Regions from separate parts of the Homo sapiens genome. Here all the other regions are linked to region 2. Evidence: fine-mapped expression QTL. A gene starts in region 2. Each other region holds a variant in brackets. All regions are shown on one strand. Distances are between the middles of the regions. Region 1 overlaps ADAP1 (ArfGAP with dual PH domains 1). Region 2 holds the start of ADAP1 (ArfGAP with dual PH domains 1). Region 3 overlaps ADAP1 (ArfGAP with dual PH domains 1). Region 4 overlaps ADAP1 (ArfGAP with dual PH domains 1).

Region 1 (4,816 bases), 46 kb after region 2:
GAAGGCGCTGTGGAAACTGTGAACCCGTGTGTGAGTGGGGGGGTCTCTCCAGGCCTGTCGGGGGCCGGGCCCCATGCTGGGGGCTATATGAGAATAGGAACAGGGTGAGAGCTGACCCCAGGAGCCCTCGTCCACCCTCTGGCCTCACCCCTGGGAACAGGGAAGCCTCCCTGTCCTGGCTGTTTGGAGAGAGAGCTCCACGCAGGGCGAAGCTGGGACCTGGAGCCCTCCGCAGGATACGGCCCGCTGGTTCTCAGCCTCTGCCGGCCCCAGACGCACCAACCTGGAGAAGGTGCATTAATGGGTCGGAGAGCGTGGGTGGACGGGCCAGGCAGGGAGAGACGGAGCCCTGTGCGGGCTCACAGAGGAGGCCTTCAACTCTAAGGCCTTACCCAGCAAGGAGACACTGCTCTGCCGTGGGCTCCGGTGTTTGCCTCCTGAGGGAGGGCAGGAGCCACTAGGACCCAAAGGCCGGAAGCCAGGTCCAGGCCCTTCACAGGGACGGCCGGGGTGCAGTGATCAGGGCCTCGGCCCCGTTCTCAGAGGCCACCCATCCATGGTGCACCCCTCCCTGTGGAAGGCCAGAGGCCCCATGAGATATGGGGATGCAGTTCCCACCCCAGAGGGTCCACCACCCTGTGAGCTGTCACTCAGAGCAGGGCCACGTGCTTCCCTGCCCCAGTTTACAAGACAATTAGCATATAAATCACATACGTGAGGTGTGATTTACATCTACTTTGCATATCCTATTTAGAGTGCAGTCCCAGCTCTGACAAATCCAAGACCCAGCAGTCTCGGGCCAGGCGTGGGGCTCACGCTGCAACCCCAGTATGGTGGGAGGAGAGGCAGGAGGGTCACCTGAGCTCAGAAGTTCGAGACCAGCCTGGGCAACGCAGTGAGCTCCCATCTCTACAAAAAAATACAGAACTTAGCCGGGTGTGGTGGCGTGCATCTGTGGTCCCAGCTACTCGGGAGGCCAAGGCTGGAGGATCACTTGAGCCCGGAAGGTCAAGGCTGCAGTGAGCTGTGATAGTGCCCCTGCACTCCAGCCTGGGTGGGGAAAAAAAAAAAAAAGCCTCGTAAACGGGTGTGGGCTTTATGTGAAGGCTGTTCCTGTTTCCTCGGATTTCACTTCTCTCTGAGGCACGTGATGTGCGCGCTTCACTGTGGTGGAAGAAACGGCCTGGCTGCTTTCCAGGGACTGGGGCACCTTACATCCCCACGGGCAGCGTGGAAGGGCCGGCGTCCCCGCCCACAGTCGGGCGCCTGTGTGTGCACACTGGTTTGGTTTTGCCGTTCTCGTGGGTCATGGCGATGCTGAACGTCTTTCCTGCTCTTAGCCGTGCGGTGGGCAGAAGGGCTCCTCAGAGGCGTCTGAGCAGGGCATGGGGTGTGGACTGGACCCAGCTCCCCACAGGTGGGACAAGACCTGGCACACAGTGGGACCGGCACACAGTAGGGCCTGGTGTGCAGTAGAACCCCCCCCACCCCACACCATAGGACCCGACACACAGCGGGACCAGCTCACAGCAGGGCGCGGCACGCGGTAGCTGTTTGATAAATACTGGTCGAGTCCTGCCCCAGGACTCACGAGTCCTTTAAGAGAAAATGGCCATTTCTGGCCACAGCCCACCCGGCTGTCCAGGACGCTGCCGTGTGAGGGGCTGCTCTGTGGGGAGAAGCCCCGTCTCACTGGCTGTTGCTGGTGCCGACTGGGGGCTGCAGGCCCCTGAGGTCCTGGCCCTCCCCAGCGAGGCCAAGGGGCTGGCCAGGCATGGGGAGAGCAGAGGCTCAGCCTGAGGTCTGGACTGGGCGTGGGGCGCGTCCGGGACCGTGGCCAGCGCCGTCCTGAAATACACTCCTGCGTCGTCATTGCCCCTGGAATGCGGCGTCCTGGCGCCTGCTGTCGGGAGGACCGGGGTTCCCGCTGGCGCCTGCTGTCGGGAGGACCGGGGTTCCCGCTGGCGCCTGCTGTCGGGAGGACCGGGGTTCCCGCTGGCGCCTGCTGTCGGGAGGACCGGGGTTCCCGCTGGCGCCTGCTGTCGGGAGGACCGGGGTTCCCGCTGGCGCCTGCTGTCGGGAGGTCCGGGGTTCCCGCTGGCGCCTGCTGTCGGGAGGACCGGGGTTCCCGCTGGCGCCTGCTGTCGGGAGGTCCGGGGTTCCCGCTGGCGCCTGCTGTCGGGAGGACCGGGGTTCCCGCTGGCGCCTGCTGTCGGGAGGACCGGGGTTCCCGCTGGCGTCTGGACCCCGAGAACACCGGAGCAGCTGCGCGCGTGCAGAGGGGCAGTGGCCTCCCAGACCCCGCGGCCTGCGCGCTTC[C/TC]GGAGCACTGCTGTCACCTGCTGGGCGCGGCGGGCATGGCAGGGGCGCGTCCCCACCCTGTGGCCTAGGGAGCCCGGTCGCTGGAAGGGGCCCCCGCTGTGTCCTGGGCAGGGGTCTGTGGAACCGACACACTGGACCCAGCCAGCTCCACCCCCGTGGGCGAGGTGGCCCAAACTTGTCGTCTGCATTGGTGACACGGACACGCACGCCTTGGAGGCTCCCCGGGGTGCACACAAGGCCGTGAGCGGCAGAGGCCGGGAAGCGCCGCTGGGCCCGCTGCTGCGATGCCTCCCCGGGCACTTCTCGGCGTCCACCCTCAGCCACGAAGCGCCGCGTCCAAAGAGGTCCTGATGTCGGAGGCAGAGCCGTGGGGACACCCAGCTGTGCCTGGGCAGGGGCTCACTGAGTCAACAGGCGTTCTGAGCAGGCCTTACTTGGGTCTGAGGGACACTGGTGGCCTCGCTCTCACAGTGAGAAGCAGGAGAAGGGGGTTCTTCCATGGGAAGGGGGCTCCTGGCTGCTGCTGTGCGCACGGGGCTGGGGCAGCAGCCTTGTAGAGGCTTGGGGAGCGGGGAGCTCCGGGCAGTGAGGGGAGCAGGCCCCGTCTGGCACCATCCAAGACAGCCCAGGGCCCCCTCCCCGAGGGCACCAGCTGTCCCCTCCCCAACGCCAGGCGTTTTATGGCTTGCATCTCAGCAGAGAAAATAGCCCCTGGTCTCTGGTGTCGGGATGGGGCTGTCTGAGCTGGGGAGGGGATGCTGGGGAGCAGGGGGCTTTGGTGGTCAGGGCTGATGGGCGGTGTCTGCAATCTGAGCCTCTGTCTGGCCTGTTGGCTGCTGCAGGGGGCTGTTTAGCCCCGCCTGGAGCCCACAGCCCCCTCGCGTCCCTGTGGCGTAGGTCAGCAGCCCCTGCCCTCAGATGACCGGGGCTCCCAGGCCACATGGCCAGCAGGATGGGATGCTGTCCCCAAGCAAGTGCTCTCTGAAGTCACTGAGGGGTCACGGACAGGCCCACGGATGCTCAGCAGACGGCCCCACGACCCCGGGAAGGGCCCACGGACACTGGGCAGACGGCCCCGCGACCCCTGGAGGGGCCACGGATGCTCGGCAGACGGCTCCTCGGCAGACGGCCCCGCGACCTCCGGAGAGGCGGCGCCCACTGGGGATGCTTGGCAGACGGCCCCGTGATCCCAGGAGAGTCTGCACCCACTGAGGACCTGCTCGACCCTGGCCACGCAGCTGCTGCCAACGGCGGGACCTGCACGCGACCCAAGGCCTGGCAGACGGAGCCCAGGACACGGATGCTGCAAGCCACATGCTGTTGGGGCGGGACAGCCAGGGCCATAGAAGAAGCTGCATCTGAGTCCGCAGGACACAGAGTTCCAGAGCAGGAGAAAGGACGGGCAACGATAGGAACCACGGACAGGGAGCAGAAGTGGGAGCGGGGCCTGGGGGGGATGGGAACGCCCCTCTGAGTGGCCACACGTGGGTCACTGACCGCAGCTCAGTGACGTGAAGCCACACGTGTTTGTTCTCCCACAGCTCTGGCAGAGCTCCAGGACGATCCCACGGGCCCGAGACTCGGAGTGGGCAGAGCTGGTTCTGGGCTCAGGACGGGTCCTCTGGCCTCTCCCTGGTGCTCCTGGGCTCTGGGGCCCCCTCTGGCCTCAGTTTCCACGGCCACGTCCCCTTCCCTCCTGTCCTCATATCTCTGCCTCCCTCCCCTGTGATCGTCTGCCACAGCAGCGTCCTAACCACCCGTGCACGGTGTGTTTTGCCATAGAAGGTGGCGTGTCCAGGTGCTTAGGCTCCCAGGGGGATGCCCGGGCTACTTTTCTGTGGCTGTGTGTGGTGTGCGTGAGGCCACAGGCGGAGATGAGGGCTTGAGCTGGACTCCCCTCAGATGAGCTTTCCTGAAAAAAGAGGGGATGGCACCACCTGGACCCAGCAGCTGCGGACGGCTGAGGGAGGAGGGAGGAGGCCAGCCTGGTCCTCCCGGGCAGCACGAGGTTGGACCCAGCCCTGCCTCTGCCCATGGTGGCTCTGGCCATGTCCACTCAGGATGGGGAGGGTCCCTGGGGGCCAGTAAAGGACAGCTGGAGTCCCGCTCATCCAGGCCGTCCTCAGGCTGGCTTGGGCCAGGGTTGCAGCCAACAGCGCTGGTCCACTGTCATATCCCCTCACCAACCATCCACCATCACCATCTGACCCATGTCCCCCCATGTCCCCTGTCCCGTCCCCCGTGTCCCCTGTCCCCCATGTCCCCTGTCCATGTCCCCTATGTACTCTGTCCCCCATGTCCCGTCCCCGATGTCCCGTCCCCCATGTCCATGTCCCCCGTGTCCCCTGTCCATGTCCCCTTTCCCGCCCCCTTTCTCCTTTCCCTTTCTCCTTTCTCCTTTCTCCTTTCCCTTTCTCCCTTTCTCCCTTCTCCTTTCTCCTTTCTCCTTTCCCTTTCTCCTTTCCCTTTCTCCCTTTCTCCCTTCTCCTTTCTCCTT
Region 2 (4,816 bases):
CCGTGCCTCAGTCTTCCCAGCTGAAAATGGGGCTTTAATAAGAAAATACATGTCGGCCGGTCGCGGTGGCTCACGCCCATAATACCAGCACTTTGGGAGGCCTAGGCAGGCGGATCACGAGGTCAGGAGATCGAGAGCATCCTGGCTAACACGGTGAAACCCCGTCTCTACTAAAAATACAAAAAAATTAGCCGGGCGTGGTGGCATGCACCTGTGTCCCAGCTGCTGGGGAGGCTGAGGCAGGAGAATGGTGTGAACCCGGGAGGCGGAGCTTGCAGTGAGCCGAGATCGCACCACTGCACTCCAGCCTGGGTGACAGAGCAAGACTCTGTCTCAAAAAAAAAAAAAAGAAAAAAGAAAATACACGTCAAGCCAGGCGTGGTGGCTCAGGCCTGTAATCCCAGCACTTTCAGAGGCTAAGGCAGGCAGATCACGTGAAGTCAGGTGTTCGAGACCAGCCTGGGCAACATGGTGAAACCCTGTCTCTACCAAAAAATAAAAATATACCTGGGCATGGTGGCACCCATTTGTGGTCCCAGCTACTCAGGAGGCTGAGGCAGGAGAATCACCTGACCCCAGGAAGCAGAGGTTGCAGTGAGCTAAGATCGTGCCACTGCACTCCAGCCTGGGCGATAGACCAAAACCCTGTCTCAAAAAAAAAAAAAAAAAAAGGAAAAAAAGAAAAGAAAAGAAAAGAAAATAGAAAATACAAGTCAGGCTATTTCTCCTAATACCTAGTGCTGAGCTGCTGCTATTAATGTTCGTCTGTCTTTATTAGGCGACATTCTCCAAGCTCATGCTGTGTGGTGGATTCCGAGCCTGGCACAGGGACCCAGAGATGAAAATGCCACCTGTCCCCACCCCAAAGCCTCCCGTCTGAGGGAGGAGAAAGACCCATGTGAACGGTTACAGGGAAAGAGCACGTGATGCCACAGGGCACAGATCCCAGAGACACAGACCAAAACGGGCTGCCGCGTTCTGCTTCAGGTAGACAGAGCTTAAGCAGCTCCATGATTCCACGTCAGCTGGAGCAGGGGGACAGGTGCCTTTGGTGGCACTCTGGTCAGTGCAGCCTCAGTGGAGGCCATTCCACATCCCATACCATTGCCCCAGCGATGCCACTTTGAGAGCAAATCCACACAAAACTCTTGCAAAGATGAGGTTGTGTAGACCATGATTCTGATGCATTCAAAACGCTCTAAATGCCCCTATGCCAGTGACTGGGTGAACAAGTCATGGTTCAGTTGAACTTTTTTTGAGTTTGTTTGTTTGGTTTTTTTTTTTTTTTTTTTTTTTTGAAACGGAGTTTCACTCTTGTTGCCCAGGCTGGAGTGCAATGGCGCAATCTCGGCTCGCTGCAACCTCTGCCTGCCAGGTTCATGCGATTCTCCTGCCTCAGCCTCCCAAGTAGCTGGGATTGCAGGCATGCGCCACCACGCCTGGCTAATTTCTTTGTATTTAGTAGAGACGGGGTTTCACCATGTTGCCCAGGCTGGTCTCAAACTCCTGAGCTCAAGTGATCCACCCGCCAGGGTCTCCCAAAGTGCTGGGATTACAGCCGTTAGCCAAAACCCTGTCTCGATAAATGAATAAATAAATGAAAGGCTACAGGCCTCAGACGTTCGTTCTGGAAGGTGCTGAGGAATTTGTTAACAGTGGTTGCCTGGAAGGCAGTGGGGAGAGGCTTTCCTTTTTCAGTCTGGTATGTTCCAGTTTGTTTTCAGCCGGGTGTACTGCATTAACCCTGCAAGAAGAAAATGGAAAGAATTTGAAAAGATGCTGGGGTGTGCAGAGGAAGGGCACGCGAGTCTGGGAAGAGGTGACATCAAAACCAGGTTTTTTGTTACCTGTCAGCCCCCATGTGAAGTCCCGGCGGGGCCCCTCAGCCTGCCTGAGTGGGAGGGGTGCCCAGAGGGTCCCATCTGTGGGTGGTGGGCGGCTGGGTGGGTCTCAGGGGGAGGCTCCGTCTGGGCCCTGTGTGGCCTCAGTGCCCTGGGACGCTGGCGTTTGTCACCTGCTGGCCGTCCCTCCCAGGCAGGGATGGTGTGAGCGCCCTGGTCCTGGTCCGTAGCACAGGACACGCACACCTGCCTTCCACGAGCACCCCCATGCCCATGGTCTTGGGGGGCTCGGCAGGTGCCCTCTGCGCCCCCCACAGTAGGTGTGCAGGCTCCGTCCCACCGCGCGCGGCGGCACGAGGGTCCCACCCAGGCCGGCCAGGTTTTGGGGCGGCCTCGCGCCCAGGCAGGTGGGACGCTGCGCGCGGATGGGGGGCGGGCGGCGGGCGATTTCCCAGCGGGTCCCCGGGGCGCGCGGGCTGGGGGCGCCGGAGCGGCCGAGGGAGGAGGCCACACGCTCGCCTGCACCGCTGGGGGCCGCCCGCGGGCCTTGCCGGCCAGAGCGCAGCGTGCGCCCCGGGCCCCGCGCCGGCACTCGCTCAGCGACCGCGGCGGAGACACGAGCGGCGGCGGCGGAGCCCAGAGGGCGGCGGGAATGCGGAACCGGCGCGCGGGCTGAGGCCGCCCGGGATGGCGCAGGGGCGGCGGCGGCGGGCGGCCTGCGCGGGGCCCTAGCGAGCCGGGCTGACGCTCCCGGCCCCGGCCCCGGCATCGGCATCGCGGGCGCATCGCGGCCATGGCCAAGGAGCGGCGCAGGGCGGTCCTGGAGCTGCTGCAGCGGCCGGGGAACGCGCGCTGCGCGGACTGCGGCGCCCCGGGTAGGTGTGGGCCGGGTGGGCGCGGGGCCGGGTGGGTCCGGGGTGGGCGCGGGGTGCCGGGCGGGTCCTGGGTGGGCCCCGGGGACCGGGCGGGGGAGCGCGGACGCCGCGGGGGTGGCGGCGCTGAACACCGGGCCGGATCGGCGCTCGGATGGGGCCCGGGCCCGGCTGCACCTGCGGGGACCCGGACGTCTTCCCGGGCCGGGCGCAGCGGGGGGGCCCCCCCCAGGACCCCCGGAAACCCCCCTGCCGCCGCCTCCCCTCCCCCGCCGGGCTGCGTGTCTGACGGTCACCGCGGACCGCCCGCCGCGTTGCGAAAGCTCGGGCTCCGCACAGAAAGAGGAAATCGGGGCTGGCTGCAGGGAGGGAACGGGCCGCCAGCCGGAGGTCTCTGCTGGGCTGTGGGGTCCGCCGGCTCCGGGGCCACCTCGCGGTGACGTCATGCCTCACGCCCTTCCCGCACCGGGGGTCCCTGGGTGTGAGCGGCGCCCCTGCCCCCGGCTCCCTGCACCTGGCTGCTCCGGGGCGGGCGCCAGGACAGGTGAGGCCTGGGAGAGGTGGGGCCGGACGCAGGTCCTGGTCCACCCGCCGCCCGCCCGTTCGTTCTCCCGGCCGGGCATCCCTGACTCGGTTCCCAGGTCTGTGGGATTTCAAGGCACTGGAGTCCAAAGGCGCGGAGTCCCTCCCTTCCAGGCCACTGGTCCTGTCATTGGCTGTGAACGGGGCCCAGTGCCCAGACCAGCCCTGCCCTGCTCGGGAGCTGTCAGCCCCAGGCCGGCTGCGCTGTGGAGAGAGGGCCCCGCCGGAGCAGTCCCGCCACCCCAGGCACACCAGGAATCTGGGGGCCAATAGTCTAAGCCCCTCGGAACAAACCTAAACTCACCGGCGGTGACTGAGGCCCCCAGGGAGGGAGCGGGGGAAGACCTTGCATTTGCCTCCAAGGCCCTGGTTCAATATGCAGCCTCTGGACACCCCGGAAAAAGGGGTGTCCCTGATTCCCTCTGGGATGGAGGGGTCTCTGCCAGCCCCAGGTCGTGGTGGCTGCTGTCCAGCTGCAGCTTGGCTGGAAAGGCCACATCAGGAGCTGGGGTGTCCCAGAGGGGAGATAGCGACAGGCTTTTCTGGAAAGACAGGCAGGACCCACGGCCTTTCCATGGTCTCCTGAGACAGGACGGCCACAGGGCCCGTGCAATGGTGCGGTGGGGGTGGCCCCCTGGGCTGGCTCACCCCAGACTCTCTCCCCACAGACCTTTATTTCCTCCTGTTCAGGAACGCTCCCCAGGAAAGCCAGTGGGAAAGGGCCTGGCCTGGGGTTGCTGTGGCCCACGGGGAGGGGAGCTGGGCTTGCCTCTGAACCTCTGCTCCCTGGCCACACAGCCTGGGAGCAGCTTCTCTGGACTCAGGGCCCCTCTCCAGCCACCCTCTGGGCCTCCCAGCCTGGCAGGAGGAAGAGGGGACTTCCTTGGCCTGCTGGGTCCTTCAGTGGTCCTCCCCTCCCAGTGGGTGCAGGTGTGCCCGGCCCACCTGCTAAGCTTCCAGCCTGGCCCACCCCAGAGCTGTTCTCTGCCGTCCCTATGCCCCACGCTGCCGGGTAGAGGGCCGCACCTCTGCCTTTTCAGAATCTGTCCATGACCTCAGTGACTTGTCTCCTCTGTCGGGTAGCGCCATGGAGGGGGGATGCTGTGAGGGGTCACTCTCATTTCACAGCCAGGGAGACTGATGCCTTGCAAAGGGAGCTGTCTTAGGGGACATGAGCCACACCCGGCCGCTCTGCTTGTCCCCGCTCCCCAGGGCTGTGGCCACAGGGTGGAACAGGCGGTGTCAGGAGGCAGGGGGCTGCCTAGCCCCCCATGACCCCATGGCACATCCTCGAGGGCTCTATGCTTCTTTGCTGATGCCAGCTGCTCTGGGGCCTCCTGTACCTGCTGTGGCCCAGCTGGGTGACAAGGAGCCACTCCAGTGTTGATGGGGGCTGGGGTGGCCGGCACGTTCTGCTGTCCTCAGAACACTGTCCTGTGCACTGGCTCACGGCTGGTGCAGACCTGGACAGCAGGACATCAGACAGTCCCAGACCACCTCTGAACGCCAGGCCTGGGGCTG
Region 3 (4,816 bases), 32 kb after region 2:
CTGAGTCGGGACCGGGGGCTGACATGGGTGCGGGGGGCTGGGGGTGCTCGTGGACTCAGGGGCTGCTGCTGTTGGGTCCTGGGTGAGGAGACTCCCAGGGCTGACACCCACTATCTGGGGTGGGGTGTGAATCCCTGTATGAGCCGTGGATGCTGGGGCATGGCAGGGGTGCAGTGTGGACCTGCAGTATAACTTGGAGGGCGGGGGGTGCAGCGTGGACCTGGAGGGCAGGGGGTGCAGTGTGGACCTGCTGTGTAATCTGGAGGGCGGGGGGTGCAGCGTGGACCTGCTGTGTAACCTGGAGGGTGGGGGGTGCAGCGTGGACCTGCAGTGTAACCCGGAGGGCGGGGGGTGCAGCGTGGACCTGCAGTGTAACCCGGAGGGCGGGGGGTGCAGCGTGGACCTGCAGTGTAACCCGGAGGGTGGGGGGTGCAGCGTGGACCTCGAGGGTGGGGGAGGGGTGCAGCGTGGACCCGCTGTGTAACCTGGAGGGCAGGGGGTGCAGTGTGGACCTGGAGGGCGGGGAGGGGGTGCAGCATGGACCTGCTGTGTAACCTGGAGGGCGGGGGGTGCAGCGTGAACTGCTGTGTAACCTGGAGGGCGGGGGGTGCAGCGTGGACCTGCAGTGTAACCCGGAGGGCGGGGGGTGCAGCGTGGACCTGCAGTGTAACCCGGAGGGCGGGGGGTGCAGCGTGGACCTGCAGTGTAACCCGGAGGGCGGGGGGTGCAGCGTGGACCTGCAGTGTAACCTGGAGGGCGGGGGGTGCCTACATCCTGCCATTTTGTGGTCCGGCTCTGTGGCTCGTGGGGCCCAAACGTCCAGCCTGGCGAGGTGGGCAGGGGACTCGTCCACCTTCCTCCCACGTCTGCCCCCACCAAGATTCTCCCAGCCCCAGCAGCGCTGGTGCCCACGGCCTCCGTGCAGCCTGGACAAGCCCGGGTCTGAGTTGAAGGTCTTCAGGGGAAAGCTCTGCTGCACAGATGTCCGGGTGGCGTCTTCGCAGGAGCTAAGAGTGGCGGGCAGCGTCCGGAGCAGGGTCCTGGAAGGCCCCCCACGCCATGCCCTGCGGCCTCCCGGCACACACTGGGGTCCCTCCAGGCAGGTCGAGCACCGTGCCCACCTCCAGCTAAGCAGAGGCCCAGGGCCTCAGTTTGCCCAGCTATAAGAGGGGAGGCTGCACCCGCAGGGGAGGGCAGAGGGTCTCGTGTGCCCTCTTTATCTTCAGCACCAGCCTGTGACTCAGAGGCCGGGACCCGTCTCTTCCTGTGTCACCCTCAGAGCTCTCCAGTTTCTATCTTGACGTCGGGGAAAGAAAGTCGTGCGGCCGCTCTGCTTGGTTTTACTTCTGGGTGGAAACCGGCCCCTCCCTGCTTCCTGTGTGGTGAGGGGTGATCAGGGCGAGTGAGGGAAGCTGTGGGAGGAGCCCTTGGCTGCTGGCAGCACCGGCTGGAGGGCTCCTCTCTGCCCATCCCAGCGAAGCCCTGGAGCCCTCAGCCCCAGCAAGCCCCCCGTGGAGCAGGTGTCCGGGCTGGACAGGGCTCTGCATGCATGTCTGGGGCTCCTGGAACACAGCACCACATGCCCGGCGGCCCAGAGCAACAGAAATCTACTTTCTTCCAGCTCTGGAGGCTGGAGGCTCAAGGCTGCTTCTCCCGAGGCCTCTCCGGGGTGCTTCCTCACATCGTGGGCCCTGCGTACCTGTCTGTGTCCTAATTCCCCTTCCTAAGGACACCGGGCACGTTGGATTGGGGGCCACCCTGCTCCTGTGGCCTCATCTTAACTAATCTGCAACCACGGTATTTCCAAATACAGGCACACTCAGGCCCGGGGGTCAGGGCTCCCAGTAGGATGGGGTCGCGGTTCAGGTGGTAGCAGCCTCGGAAACACCCAGGATAGACAATGGGGGCGGGGGTGGCGGGGGTGGGGGTGTTGCTGAGAGGCAGGTGCGTGGGCGGGGGTGTGGGCGGGGGCGTGAACACCACCCGGGCTATTTTCCTGTAATAAAAAGGGAAAAAACCCATCTGGGTGAGCCACTGGTCCACCACGTAGAAGCAAAGCCGGGGGCCCTGGGGGGTCACTTTCGCAAGAGGCAAAGCCTCCAGGAAGGGTGTTGATGGTGTCCTGAACTCCATGCGGTGGAAACTGGCAGAACTCGGGCAGAAGGCACACTCAGGAGTGGACCCTCAGGGATGGACGTGCCAGCTGTGTGAACAGCACCCGCTATGGGGGTCACAGTGGCCACTGGACCCGTCCTGGGGAAAGCGGGGAGGGGTCTCCCATGGCATCTTGGGCTGGGGGAGCCCTGTGGGGAAGTGGCTTCTGGGGCTCAGAGCGTCTTCCCCTGTGAGTCCACACCTAGGGGAGGCAGTCGCCCTGAGCACCTGCCCGGCCCCCTGCCCCCAGCTCACATTTTGCTCTGCGTTGAGGGGACCCACCTGACCCTGAGGCCCTGGCCTTGAAGGGGTGGCCTAGGGGTCCTTGAAGCCTGGCTCCCCTGAGCCCTGGAACTTGGGGCACTTCCTGGGGCGTGGGCTGAGGTGTGGCTGGAGCTTTCCTGGTGGCTCTCCGTCCCGGCTGCCAGGTGGCCCGAAGCCCACCTCCTCGTGACCACGTGGGGTGTCAGTGCGGCCCCTCCAGGGCTGTGGGAGTCGGGAGGGCTCCGGGCAGTACTGGTTTTCAGGAGATGAGGGGCTTCCGGAGGGCTCCGCT[G/A]GGCAGGATGGGGTCCAGCCCCCGACTTCCTGGTGCTCACTCCCAGGCTTCCTCCTGCTGCTGCTGCTTCTGGAAGCTTCTGTGCCAGGCCCTGGGATGCCCTTGTGTGCGGGTGTGAGCCTTGGGGGCCCATTCTGCACCAGGGCAGGGCTGCCGACCCTGTGGGTGCCCCGCCCTGAGGGCCGTTGGCAGGCGTGGTTGTCAAAGCCGTCCCTGGCACCTGCCTCTCATCCACAGGCCCCCGGCTTCCACACATGCGGCCTTCGGTCCTCCCGTGACTCTGAGAGGCCGCTGTGTGACCCTGGGGTCATGGGACGCTGGGTGCTAGGGGGCAACTCCTCCGTGGTCACACAGCCGGAGCGGCTCAGGCAGCTGCACGGTGTCCCCCGAAAAGACGTGTTAAAGTCCTAACCCGCCGCCCCTGTGAAGGTGAACTCATCTGGAAATAGGGGCCGGACGCGAGGCTCACACCTGTAATCGCAGCCCTGTAGGAGGCCCAGGTGGGAGGATTGGCCTCAGGAGTTCCAGACCAGCCTGGGCAACAGAGTGAGCTCCCACCTCTACAAAAAATAAAAAATTACCAAGTCGTGGTGGTGCACACCTCTAGCCCAGCTACTCGGGAAGCCGAGGCAGGAGGATCCTTGAGTGCAGGTGTTGGAGGCTGCGTTGAGCTGTGATCGCACCACTGTGCCCCAGCCTGGGAGACACAGTGAGACCCTGTCTCTAAAAGAAAGAAAAGTAGGATCTTTGCAGATGTCTTCAGGTTAAGATAAGGTTGTGAGGTTGTCCTGGAGTAGGGTGGGCCCAAACCCCACAGGGAAGGCCAGGTGAGGACGGCGCCGAGGTGGGGGCACTGGCGGCTTCCAGGGGTGGGAGGGACCCTGGAGGAGATTCTCCCCAGAACACCTGGAGGGACCAGCTCGGCCGACGCCTTGATCTCAGACGTTTGGCCTCCGTGACCGAGATGATACATTTCTGTTGCTTTCGGGGACCGAATTTTGGGGTGATCGTTGTAGCAGGTGGGGGACACACACACACCTGGGGCCAGGGGCCAGAGACCCAGCTGGGACCCATCACCCATCAGATCCTGTGGGCGAGGATTCCCGCCCAGTCTCCAAGGCTGTTCACGTGGGCCCAGCAGGAAGCCACAGGGTTCCTATTTGTTCTTTGCCGCGTAATTCCCTGGGAGTGGAAAAGGCTGGGGCGGCTGCCTGTGCACCTGGGCCGTGCCGGGCCTGTGTGTGGGTCGTGGTTTCTGCAATGGTATTGGCTTCACTCGAGTGAGTCACGGTGGATGGGGAGGCCGTGGTGGGTGGCTCTGGGCAGGGATGTCTGGGCTCAGTGGGTGCCGTGGGGGGCCCTCGTCCCGGGCTTTACTCTCGGGGGCTTCTCCTCATCCCGGGTCTTCCTGGATTCTTGGGTATTTGCCGGTAGTTTCTCCTGATGCCCCGGACGCCTCCTGACCTCGACGGGTGCCCTGATAGCTCCGTCCTGTGTCTCAGAACCACGTGGAGGGCGGCACGGCGGGTGGAGGGCGGCACGGGGGGTGCAAGGTGGCAGCACGGTGGGTGGAGGGCGGCGCCGCGGCCACTTCCCAGATCCGGTCCAACGAGGTGGGGAGGGTCGGGGAGGGCCCAGGGGCGTGTGACTCGGGGTGGGGGGGCCTGGCTCAACCCCTGTACCCCAGCCCTGTGGGGCATCAGCTGAGGCCAAGGTGGGAAGGAGAGGGGAGGCACCAGCCCGTCCACCGGGAACGCTTGTGCAGAACGTGAGGCCTGATGCTCCGGGGGCCGAACGCACAAGAAACCAATAAACTAATATCAGAGTGAGAAGCGTCCCGGGCAGGAGGCTGACCCTGCATTTCTTCCGGGATCTTGTGCCCAGAGGGGCGGCTCGAGTCTGCCGGGGGTCCCTATGAGCCTCTTGAGATGTCCAGGGTCCGGGCCAGAGAGCGGCGTGTGCTGGGTCGGAGGCCGCCTTGGCCCAGTGGCTCAGTCTCTCCTCTCCCCACAGGCTCCTTCGAGAGCAGTGGATCCGGGCCAAGTACGAGCGACAGGAGTTCATCTACCCGGAGAAGCAGGAGCCCTACTCGGCAGGTGAGGCCAC
Region 4 (4,816 bases), 39 kb after region 2:
CCGGTGGTTCCAGCAGTTTGGGAGGCAGGTGGATCCGTTGCAGTCAGCAGTTTGAGGCCAGCCTGGCCAACATGGTGAAACCCCGTCTCTACTAAAAATACAAAAATTAGCTGTGCACGGTTGGCGCACACCTGTAATCCCAGCACTTTATATGGAGGTCAAGGCGGGCAGATCTCCTGATCTCAGGAGTTCAAGACCAGCCTGAGCAACGTGGCGAAACCCCATGTTGCTCATTTTTTGGACTCTACCAAAAAATGCAAAATTAGCTGGGCGTGGTTGGCGCACATCTGTGGTTCCAGCTACTTGGGAGACTGAGGCGGGAGGATCTCTTGAGCCTGGGAGGCGGAGGCTGCAGTGAGCCAAGGTTGCACCACTACACTCCAGCCTGGACGTCAGAGCGAGAGTGTGTCTGTAACAAGAAAAAAGATGAATCGTATTTGTGAATCTCACCCCAAGAATAAAAGAAGCACCTTGGGAGGCCTAGGCGGGCGGATGGATCACTTGAGACCACGAGTTCGAGACCAATCTGGTCAACGTGGCAAAACTGTTTCTAGTAAAAAATACAAAAATTAGCCAGGTGTGGTGGCAGGTGCCTGTAATCCCAGCTCCTCGGCAGGCTGATGCAGGAGAATCGCTTGAACCTGGAAGGCGGAGGTTGCAATGAGCCGAGATTGCGCCTCTGCACTCCAGCCTGGGCGGCAGAGCAAAAGTCTGTCTCAAAATATGTGAAAGAGAGGCGGCCCTGAAATGGCTGAACACAGTCCTGGTGTTGTAGGTGGGTTCAGTGGAGAAGCCCCTGACCCCCAGTGCTCCAACCCCTCCCAGCCCTCCCTGGTAGAGCTGGCACTGCGCCCCCCTCCCGTGCACCTCCCCGGTAGAGCTGGCACTGCGCCCCCCCTCCCGTGCACCTCCCCGGTAGAGCTGGCACTGCGCCCCCCTCCCGTGCAACTCCCCGGTAGAGCTGGCACTGCGCCCCCCTCCCGTGCACCTCCCCGGTAGAGCTGGCACTGCGCCCCCCCTCCCGTGCACCTCCCCGGTAGAGCTGGCACTGCGCCCCCCTCCCGTGCAACTCCCCGGTAGAGCTGGCACTGCGCCCCCCTCCCGTGCACCTCCCCGGTAGAGCTGGCACTGCGCCCCCCTCCCGTGCACCTCCCCGGTAGAGCTGGCACTGCGCCCCCCTCCCGTGCACCTCCCCGGTAGAGCTGGCACTGCGCACCCCTCCTGTGCACCTCCCCGGTAGAGCTGGCACTGCGCCCCCCTCCCGTGCACCTCCCTGGGCTCTGTCAGGACCGTGGATTTTCTCCCAGGAGCGGCGTGGGGTGAGCAGGGGTGACCGGTGGGAGGCTGCCCCAGGCCTGAGCAAGGCACCTCCCCAGGTCAGGCTGGGGTCTCATGCAGCGGTCCTGTCGGCTCTGCCCTCCTCCAGGGCAGCTCCTGCCCCCCCAACCCCCACTTGGCACACAGCCAGCCTGTGCAGGCGCTGATTCAATTACTGTCTACCCAGACAGCAATTTCTTCCTCTCAAGAATCCCTGTGTGTGTGAGGGAGAGAGCAAGAAACGGTCAGGGGATGAACACGCGGGCACCTGGACCTGCTCAGCACCCAGCACACCCCTCGCTCCACTCCTGCCTTAAACCCCCAAAGAATCACCCCAGAGCCCCTCCGTTTCCCTCGGCAGAAACATCTTAGCAATTTGTAGCAAGGTGGCACGTGGCCTCACTTCAGAGGCAGGCATGGGCTGGGCTGGCGTGACCACAGGACTGAGTTTTGTGTCTGTTCTTGTATCAGAACCCTCTGGTTGTAAAGGATGGAAAATCCAACTTCACTGGGTGTCAGCAAAACTGGAAATGGATTGACTGGAATAACAGGGCACAGCTTGATCTAGGGGTTTAGCTGGTGTCGTTGGGACCTGGTTTCAGCACCTCTATCTCCTAGTTCTGCGTCTCTAGGTTGGCACCAATCCTCCTGGTGGCCACCTCCTTTGGCAAGTTTGGGTTTTACATCCCTGCTCTCCCGGGCTGCCAGGAAAGGTCAGGTGTGGCTCACAGAAGTGCTGGAAAAAGTCCCTGTCTCGTCACCTCTGACTGGTCGGGCCGGGATGTGACTTGGGAAACGTGGCGCCCTAGGTGGCGTGCCCGCCTCTGGCCCCTGGAGTGGCCCTTCTGGGGAAGATCAGGTCTGGGCTCCAGAAGTGGGGGTGCGTGCAGGTGGCAGACAGTGTCTCGTGGGCAGTGGGCGTGGGTTCTGCAGGCAGGTGGCAGACGGCATCTCGTGGAAAGTGGGCGCGGGTTCTGGGTTCTGCAGGCGGGTGGCAGACAGCGTCTCGTGGAAAGTGGGCGCGGGTTCTGGGTTCTGCAGGCGGGTGGCAGACAGCGTCTCGTCGGCAGTGGGCGTAGGTTCTGCAGGGGTATATGGGTGTCATTGGGCTCAGGGCCAGGAGGTGGTGACAGGCCTGGTGACCCAAGACGCCTCCTGCCCCAGGCCCGAGGCTGCCCAACTGGAATCCTGTTCCTGCCCCACTGGAATCCCATTCCTGCCTTTGCTGTTGTCTGAGATATTCCCTTGAGAGCATTTGAGATGAGCTAAAGCCTCCCGTGTGACCCTCGGGCAGGGGTTGGAGGGAGGGAGAGGCCTCCCAGCAGGGTAGAGTCGGGGCAGAGGTTTTCAGGCACACGCTTGCTCGCAGGGTCGGAGCCCAAGGCCTTGGCCTTGCCTGCCGGCCTCTGAAGCCCACGCTGAGTGAATGGCCGCTTCTCATACCAGGCCCGGCGGGGCGGCCACGTCCGCAGCACCAGGCTCATGATCTGCCTGTGGAGACCAGGCCGCATGGGCTGTGCCCTCTGTTCTCTCCCCTGGATGGGTGTGAGGATGGTGGGGAGGTGCACAGTGTGCATGAGGCACGGG[T/G]GAGGTACACAGACGAGATGTACGGGTGTGTGCGGCACAGGTGAGATGCACAGGCGAGGTGTGCAGGTGTGAGTGCAGGGCTGGCCCTTTGTGAAGGTGCCGTGAGTGCCGTGGCCAGGTGTTACCTGGCAGCAGGGTGGCAGCCTCTTGCAGAGGGCATGGGGTCGTAGACTGCGGCTGCTCCAGAGTGTGTGGCTGCTGTCTCCCTTGGGCCACGGCACCTTCCAGGTCGCGCAGGAGGCACCAGGCACGCCAGCCAGAGGGCCTCGGGCCCCAGAGCCCCGGCTGCAGGGAGGCTGCTGGGATCCCAGGGACCCAGAGGTGCTGAGTCGTATGGCCCTGTGCTCAGGGCCCACTGACACCCACCTGCTCAGGGCAGGGCTCACCCCTCCTTGAAGCCTCCCCTCTACCCTGCCCCTGCAGCCTGGTCAGTAGGCACGAAGGCCTGGCTGCTTCAGACGGCCAAGTGCCTGGGGACCAGCAGGCGGTGACTGTCTGTGCTCCAGGCTGCTGTCTCTGGGTGCTGTGCAGGGCGGGGTTCCAGGGCCCTGTGAGATGCCCTGCCTGTCTCCTTGTGTGTTCAGGGGCTCCAGGGCACCTCTCCCACAGACCTAGCTGCCCGCTGCTATTTGGAACCCTAGGTTCTGCCCTTTGCTGGATGGATGAGGGAGCAGGTGTCCATCTGGTGCTCAGGGTTAGACCTCAGGGACCCCCCGAGCCTCCCCATGGCCCCCACCCTGAGCCCATGTCTGGGTGGGTGCAGCAGCAGGAGAGGACGTGTCCTCCTGTCTGGGGCGGCCCCGTGGGCAGAGCCTCCTCCACAGGGCTCCAGCGCCAGTTGGCAGTTCCCGGGCCTCCCAACCCCTCCCAGAGTGCACTGGGGATTCCCGGCGGCGTTCCTGCCCTGCTCCCTGGCTTTGCCACCAGAGCCCTTTATCACGGCAGTGGCGACACCTCACGACCACAGGGAAATATAGAAGTCCCTGCGGCAGGGCCCGGGAGGAAGGGGAAGCTCGGGGCTTGGGAAGGGCCTGCCACACCCACAACCCCACGTTGGCCAGGTGAGGCCTGGGCCAGGTGGCTCCCGCTCTGCACAGAGGAGTGGCTGCAGGTCTGCCCTGGAATGAGCCGGAACCAAGAACTCCTAGAGGCTGTGCCACGCCCAGTGCCCACAGCCTGCACCTTGGCTGTGGGTGGAAATGGCCGGGTTGTTCTCACAGGGCGGGGGCCCCAGATGTCCTGTGTGTGGGCCACGCCACCCAGGACCATGGCTGAGGAAGGCGGAGCCCCACTCCATCCCTCTGTTAGGCCACCCAAAAGGAAGGATCACCACCGGGCTTTTCTGAAGGAGTTTTTTGTTTGTTTGTTTTTTCCTGCTCTGTTGCCCAGGCTGCGGTGCAATGGTGCGGTCTCAGCTCACCGCAATGTCCACCTCCCGGGTTCCCGCCATTCTCCTGCCTCAGCATCCTGAGTAGCTGGGACTACAGGCGCCCCCCACCACGCCCGGCTAATTTTTATATTTTTAGTAGAGACAGGATTTCATCATGTTGGCCAGGCTGGTCTGGAACTCCTGACCTCAGGTGACCCGCCCGCCTCGGCCTCCCAAAGTGCTGAGATTATAGGCGTGAGCCACCACACCTGGCCTCTGAAGGAGCTTTTAATGGCTAAAGCTGGGGGAGTAATTTGAGCAACAAAAGGAAGATGGTATAAGGGGATTATAACAGGGGAGCAAGGTACACACCCCCAAGTCCATAGACATATACATAAAGAATGGAACAAGTAAAGAGAAAGGGGAGGACCGGGCGCGGTGCCTCACGCCTGTAATCCCAGCACTTTGGGAGGCTGAGGCAGGCGGATCACGAGGTCAGGAGATCAAGACCATCCTGGCTAACACGGTGAAACCCCGTCTCTA

What was found.
Region 1: its variant is fine-mapped to the expression of ADAP1 in whole blood (TOPMed, PIP above 0.99).
Region 3: its variant is fine-mapped to the expression of ADAP1 in whole blood (INTERVAL, PIP above 0.99). The same link has a PIP of 0.9 or more in atrial appendage, thyroid and unexposed skin.
Region 4: its variant is fine-mapped to the expression of ADAP1 in whole blood (TOPMed, PIP 0.99).

Annotation. Positions count from the first base shown.
Region 1 is chr7:906,529-911,344 of GRCh38, reverse strand. The region is part of intron 4 of ADAP1 (ArfGAP with dual PH domains 1); the gene reads left to right. Among named protein-coding and RNA genes, the nearest start is that of GET4, 32 kb to the right of the region's middle. RefSeq lists a silencer at 2,211-2,430 and an enhancer at 2,945-3,643. The variant C/TC (reference allele first, on the strand shown) is at 2,320.
Region 2 is chr7:952,296-957,111 of GRCh38, reverse strand. It overlaps ADAP1 (ArfGAP with dual PH domains 1), which reads left to right and starts at 2,432. Exons shown (of 11, transcript NM_006869.4): 1 at 2,432-2,716. The coding sequence starts at 2,635. It overlaps LOC124901569 (a long non-coding RNA gene), which reads right to left and starts at 2,258. Exons shown (of 2, transcript XR_007060178.1): 1 at 1,848-2,258; 2 at 1,622-1,744. RefSeq lists enhancers at 1,539-2,148, 3,371-3,982 and silencers at 2,126-2,225, 2,081-2,236, 2,256-2,745, 3,036-3,245.
Region 3 is chr7:919,958-924,773 of GRCh38, reverse strand. It overlaps ADAP1 (ArfGAP with dual PH domains 1), which reads left to right. Exons shown (of 11, transcript NM_006869.4): 4 at 4,724-4,806. Among named protein-coding and RNA genes, the nearest start is that of ADAP1, 32 kb to the left of the region's middle. RefSeq lists enhancers at 1-25, 1,175-1,224, 1,815-1,874. The variant G/A (reference allele first, on the strand shown) is at 2,711.
Region 4 is chr7:913,385-918,200 of GRCh38, reverse strand. The region is part of intron 4 of ADAP1 (ArfGAP with dual PH domains 1); the gene reads left to right. Among named protein-coding and RNA genes, the nearest start is that of ADAP1, 39 kb to the left of the region's middle. The variant T/G (reference allele first, on the strand shown) is at 2,905.